Regions from separate parts of the Homo sapiens genome. Here region 2 is linked to region 1. Evidence: fine-mapped expression QTL. A gene starts in region 1. The other region holds a variant in brackets. All regions are shown on one strand. Distances are from middle to middle.

Region 1 (2,816 bases):
CAAAGCCCAATTCCAATACCTGCTTCTCCTAGGAATGCTTTCCGGTCTGATCTCCAGGAAGAATCCACAACACCCTTCTCTGGGCTCCCACAATCTACTCCACAGGTGGCCAAAAAATGAATGAGGAGGTCTCAGTAGAAGTCGGCCACACCAGGCTGGAAGCTCTTCAAGGCCAAGACCCAGGCTAAGTCCTCTCTGGGACCCCTCTTCCAAGATGAGCTGTGGGAACACTGCAGCTTTTTTTTTTTTTTTTGAGACGGTGTCTGGCTCTGTCGCCCAGGCTGGAGTGCAGAGGCGCCATCTCAGCTCACTGCAAGCTCCACCTCCCAGGTTCACACCATTTTCCTGCCTCAGTCTCCTGAGTAGCTGGGACTACAGGTGCCCGTCACCTCGCCCGGCTAATTTTTTGTATTTTTAGTAGAGACGCGGTTTCACCGTGTTAGCCAGGATGGTTTCGATCTCCTGACCTCGTGATCCGCCCACCTCAGCCTCCCAAAGTGCTAAGATTACAGGCGTGAGCCACTGTGCCCGGCCCTGCAGCTATTTTTAAAATAAGGAATAAGTGGGGTGTGGTGGCTCATGCCTGTAGTCCCAGCACTTTGGGAGGCAAAGGTGGGAGGATCACTTGAGGCCAGGAGTTTGAGACCAGCCTGGGCGACATAGTAAGACCCCATCTCTAATACATATATATATATATTTGCCAGATGTGGTAGCACACAACTGTAGTCCCAGCTACTCTGGAGAGCAAGGTGGGAGGGAGGGTTGCTTGGGCCCAGAAATTTGAGGCCACATTGAGCTAGGATGGCGCCACTGCACTCCAGCCTGGGCCACAGAGTGAGATTCTGTCTCAAAAAAATAAAAATAAATAAAGCAGAAACAGTAGAAAACGAAGACGAGGCCGGGCGCGGTGGCTCACGCCTGTAATCCCAGTACTTTGGGAGGCCGAGGTGGGAAGATCACGAGGTCAGGAGTTCAAGACCAGCCTGGCCAAGGTGAAACCCATCTCTACTAAAAATAACAAAATTAACCGGGTGCAGTGGTGTGCATCTGTAATCCCAGCTACTGGGGCAGCTGAGCCAGGAGAATGGCTTGAACCCAGAAGGCAGAGGTTGCAGTGACCCAACATCGTGCCACCGCACTCCAGCCTGGGTGACAGAGCAAGACTCCGTCTCAAAAAAAAAAAAAAAAGAAGACGAATTGGTCGGTAAGGGGACTCGAACTGGAGACTCTAAAACTTCTCCAGCCCTGCCCACTCAATTTACTTCATTGGCTCCTCCCTTTCAGGCTCCGTCCCTATCCCCGCCTCACCCTTAATGGCGCCCGCCCAGACTCCTGGAAGTGAGCGGCCTAGCGAGCGAGCTCCCAGGCGCAAAGCACGCCGGAAGCTGTAGTTCCGCCATCGGACGGAAGCCGACCGGGGCGTGCGGAGGGATGTGGCCCGGAATATTGGTAGGGGGGGCCCGGGTGGCGTCATGCAGGTACCCCGCGCTGGGGCCTCGCCTCGCCGCTCACTTTCCAGCGCAGCGGCCGCCGCAGCGGACACTCCAGAACGGCCTGGCCCTGCAGCGGTGCCTGCACGCGACGGCGACCCGGGCTCTCCCGCTCATTCCCATCGTGGTGGAGCAGACGGTACGGCGGCCGGGCGGGGACACGGTTCGGGGGCTCCGGGCTGGGTGGGGATCGGCTGGCTGCCCCGGCCCCTCACCTCCATCTTTCTACCCCCAGGGTCGCGGCGAGCGCGCCTATGACATCTACTCGCGGCTGCTGCGGGAGCGCATCGTGTGCGTCATGGGCCCGGTGAGCGCCCCGCGCCGGGACCCTCCCCAGGACTCTCCCAAGCGCCTGCCGACACTCCCTGCGCCCCTCCTTCCCTGGCCCCAGACTTTCCCTCAGGCTCCGCTCCCCTTCTAACCCCCTTCCCTCCCCTTCTGACTCCCCTCCTGGCTCCCGGTCCCCCAACCCGCTCCTCACCCCTTCTCTGCTCCTCGGCTCTTAATCTCCGACTTCCTTCCTGACACCTGGCACCGCTCCCCTCATTCCTACGCTCAAGACTCTCCCCAGCCATTCTCACCCCTTCCTTTCCTGTGTCCCTAGCCCCCTGACTCCCCCCTTCCTGTGCTCCAAACCCCCTGGGTCCTCTCCACTACTCTCTCCCCATCCCCTTCTGGGGCCTAAATTCTTCCCCATCCCTTTTACTTTGGGCTCTGGTCCCCCTTCCTGGTTCCCTGACCCATCCCCAGCCTCCCTTAAAACTCTCTCCCCACCCCGAATCTGGGGACACCCCTGCCCTCTCCACCTGCAGATCGATGACAGCGTTGCCAGCCTTGTTATCGCACAGCTCCTCTTCCTGCAATCCGAGAGCAACAAGAAGCCCATCCACATGTACATCAACAGCCCTGGTGAGCAGGGTCTTTCCTGGGTGCCAGGGGCACTCGTCAGGGCACACGGGTGACTCAGGGGACCAGAATCCCGGGTCAGGGATGTTCTCTCTCTGGGAAAGGGTGCAGAGCGTCAGAGTTCCAGAAGTGGCTTTAAACCACCAAAAGGTGCCTGTTGCTGGCTTTTGAGCCTCGGTTCACAAGTCAGGATGTGGCCTCTTTGATCCTGCACATACTGTTCTGCCAACCTGACCCGGCTGACATTTAAAAATTGGTAGATTTTAGGCCGGGCACAGTGGCTCACACCGGTAATCCCAACACTTTGGGAGGCTGAGGCGGGCGGATTGCTCGAGCTCAGGAGTTCAAGACCAGCCTGGGTAACGTAGTGAGACCCCATCTCTACAAAAAAAGTACAAAGATTAGCCGGGCAATGTGGCG
Region 2 (2,816 bases), 840 kb before region 1:
CCCCTCATCGCCTCAGTGCACTCTCCTCTTCCCTCTCTCCCCATCCCTCCCTCCACACTGTCCGTGTGGCTTCAGCCACATAGGTCTCCTCGCTGTTCCTCCAACGTGTCAGGCACAGTCCTACCCCAGGGCCTTTGCAGAGGCTGTTCCCTCTGCCTGGAACTCTCTTCCCCCACATCCGTCACTTAAACCAACGCATTTTCCTCCATCCTATTCCCAGGCTTCCATCTTCACCCCCACGACCTGTCCTCTCTTTGGCAGCCAGAGGGCGCCTGTGAGCCCCTGAGTCAGGTCCTGTCCCTCTTCTGTCCACAGCCCTCCATAGCTCCCACTTCCCTGGACGTAAAAGCCCAAGTCCTCCCAGCAGCCCACAAAGGCCTGCATGATTTGCCCCGTCCCCTCCCTGCCTCCCCTTCCTCCCTCTCTCCCACTCTTCACTCCGTCCCAGTCCCTGACACTCAAAAAAAGAAAACAACAACAAAAACAAACGAAAACAAAAATGGGGACTTTGCACACACCTAGGATCTGAAAGGAATTTTCAGTGCATAGCCCATGCCTGGACTCCTCCCTGAGTGAGGAGCTCACTGCCTCCCAACAGCTGTCCTTTTATCTATGAGCTGTGCCGGCCATGAGCCAGGTCAGCCTCTGCAAAATCTGGGCTGAGTGTGAAGTGCATGTGTGGAGGGAAGGGGTTAAAATGAGGTCAGGGGCCTGGCACGGTGGCTCACGCCTGTAATCCCAACACTTTGGGAGTCTGAGGCAGGTGGATCACCTGAGGTCAGGAGACCAGCCTGGCCAACATGGTGAAACCCCGTCTCTACCAAAAATACAAAAAATGAGCCGGGCATGGTGGCGGGTGCCTGTAATTCCAGCTACTTGGGAGCCTGAGGCAGGAGAATTGTTGAACCCGGGAGGCGGAGGTTGCAGTGAGTTGAGATCACGCCACTGCACTCCAGCCTGGGCAATAGAGCAAGATTCTGTCTCAAAAACAAAAGAGGTCAGGATCTTAGCAGGGAGGCTGCTGTTTTGCATAGGTTGGAAGTCCCCCTGAGGCCACGGGAGCTTGATTAATCCAGACCCTCCCTTCTCTGTCTTTGTCTCTCTCTTTCTGACAGTCTCTCCCTCTCTTTCTCCCTTGGTTTGTGTCTGTCTGCTTCTGTCTCTCCCCTCTTCTCTCTCACCTCTGTGTTTCTGTCTCTGGGTGTCCATGCTGTTAAAAGTCATACAGATATGAGACAGCGTTCAACCCCAACTGAAAATTGCCAGCCACCCCAGCAGTGGAATAATTGAATCGGCGGGCAGCAGGACTGAATCAAGTGAGGGTGGAAGGGGGCACATTCCCAGCTAAAAGTGGGGCCCTCGTTAGGGGGATGCAGTTTGCTGTTGGTAGCAGGAACATGAGTTTGCAGGGTGGCGAGGGG[G/T]GAGTGAACTCCCACTGGCAGGCCTGGCTCCCCAGGCTTCCCTGCTGAAGACAAGCTGAGTCCTGCAGAGAGAGGCTGAGGCCTGAGTCGCATCTATCCGCCCCCTCCCCCAACTTCAACACATGGAGTCTGCTTAATGCTCCGAGCCACTTGACAGGCCCCAGTTGAGGGTTTCACCAGGATCCACAGCCAGCCAAGCCCAGCTCATCAAAGTGGGGCTCCATTCTCCATCATCCGACCATTCACGTATCTGCCTTCTCCATCACGGATCCATCCTTCACCCATCCAGCCAACACCTACCCATCCATCCTTCCTTCCATTTCCCAAACCCCCATACACTCACCCATATACCCGCCCACCCATTCCCCATCGTCCGCCTTCCATCCCCCAACCTTCATATCCCATCCCCCTTTCACTCACCTACACACCCACCCATATACCCACCCCTACAATCCCCATTCACTCATCTACCCTTTCCTCCACCATCTACCTACAGGCCTATCCATCCTTACCTCCACTCAACCACCTACCCAAAAACCATCCATCCATCCACCCATCCATCCACTCACCATCCATTCATCCACTCATCCATCCATCAACCCAGCCATCCACCTGTCCATCAACACACCCAACCATTCACTCATCCATCCATCATCCATCCATTCACCCATCCACCCACCACCCACCCATCCATCCATGCAGCTATCCATCCATCCATCCATCCATCCATCCATCTATCCATCCATCCATCCATGCACCCATTCACCTATCCACCTACCCATCCATTTATCCATTCATGCATGCATCTACCCATCTATCCATCCATCCATTCATCCATTTATCCATCCATCCATTTATCCATCCATCCATTTATCCATCCATCCATCCATCCATCCATTTATCCATCCATCCATTTATCCATCCATCCATCCATCCTTCCATCCATCCATCCATCCATCCGCCCACCTACCCATCCACTCATCCATTCACCACCCACCCACCTAACCATCTACTCATTTATCCACCCATCCATCCATTTATCCATCCATCCTTCCATCCATCCATCCATCCATCCATCCACCCACCTACCCATCCATTCATCCATTCACCACCCACCCACCTAACCATCTACTCATTTATCCACCCATCCACCCATCCATCCATCCATCACACACTCATTCATCCACCCATCCATCTATCCATTCATACACACGCACACACACACACACACACACACACACACACACACCCTCCCATCCCCCACCCATCCACCTTTCATCCCCTATCCCTCCATCTCCCATCCCCTATTCAACCATCCCTCCACTCACCTTTCATCCATCTGCCCATCCATCCTCCCCTCCCTCACCCCACATTTCCCACCCACCCATCCATCCA

What was found. PIP is the estimated chance that this variant, and not a neighbour inherited with it, causes the effect.
Region 2: its variant is the best candidate, but not a certain one, in a credible set for the expression of CLPP in hippocampus (GTEx, PIP 0.89).

The regions. Positions count from the first base shown.
Region 1 is chr19:6,360,144-6,362,959 of GRCh38, forward strand. It overlaps CLPP (caseinolytic mitochondrial matrix peptidase proteolytic subunit), which reads left to right and starts at 1,388. Exons shown (of 6, transcript NM_006012.4): 1 at 1,388-1,629; 2 at 1,726-1,797; 3 at 2,303-2,399. The coding sequence starts at 1,432. It also overlaps a transcript of ACER1 not described here. RefSeq lists a silencer at 1,635-1,864 and an enhancer at 2,063-2,816.
Region 2 is chr19:5,523,029-5,525,844 of GRCh38, forward strand. No RefSeq gene overlaps it. Among named protein-coding and RNA genes, the nearest start is that of TINCR, 44 kb to the right of the region's middle. The variant G/T (reference allele first, on the strand shown) is at 1,422.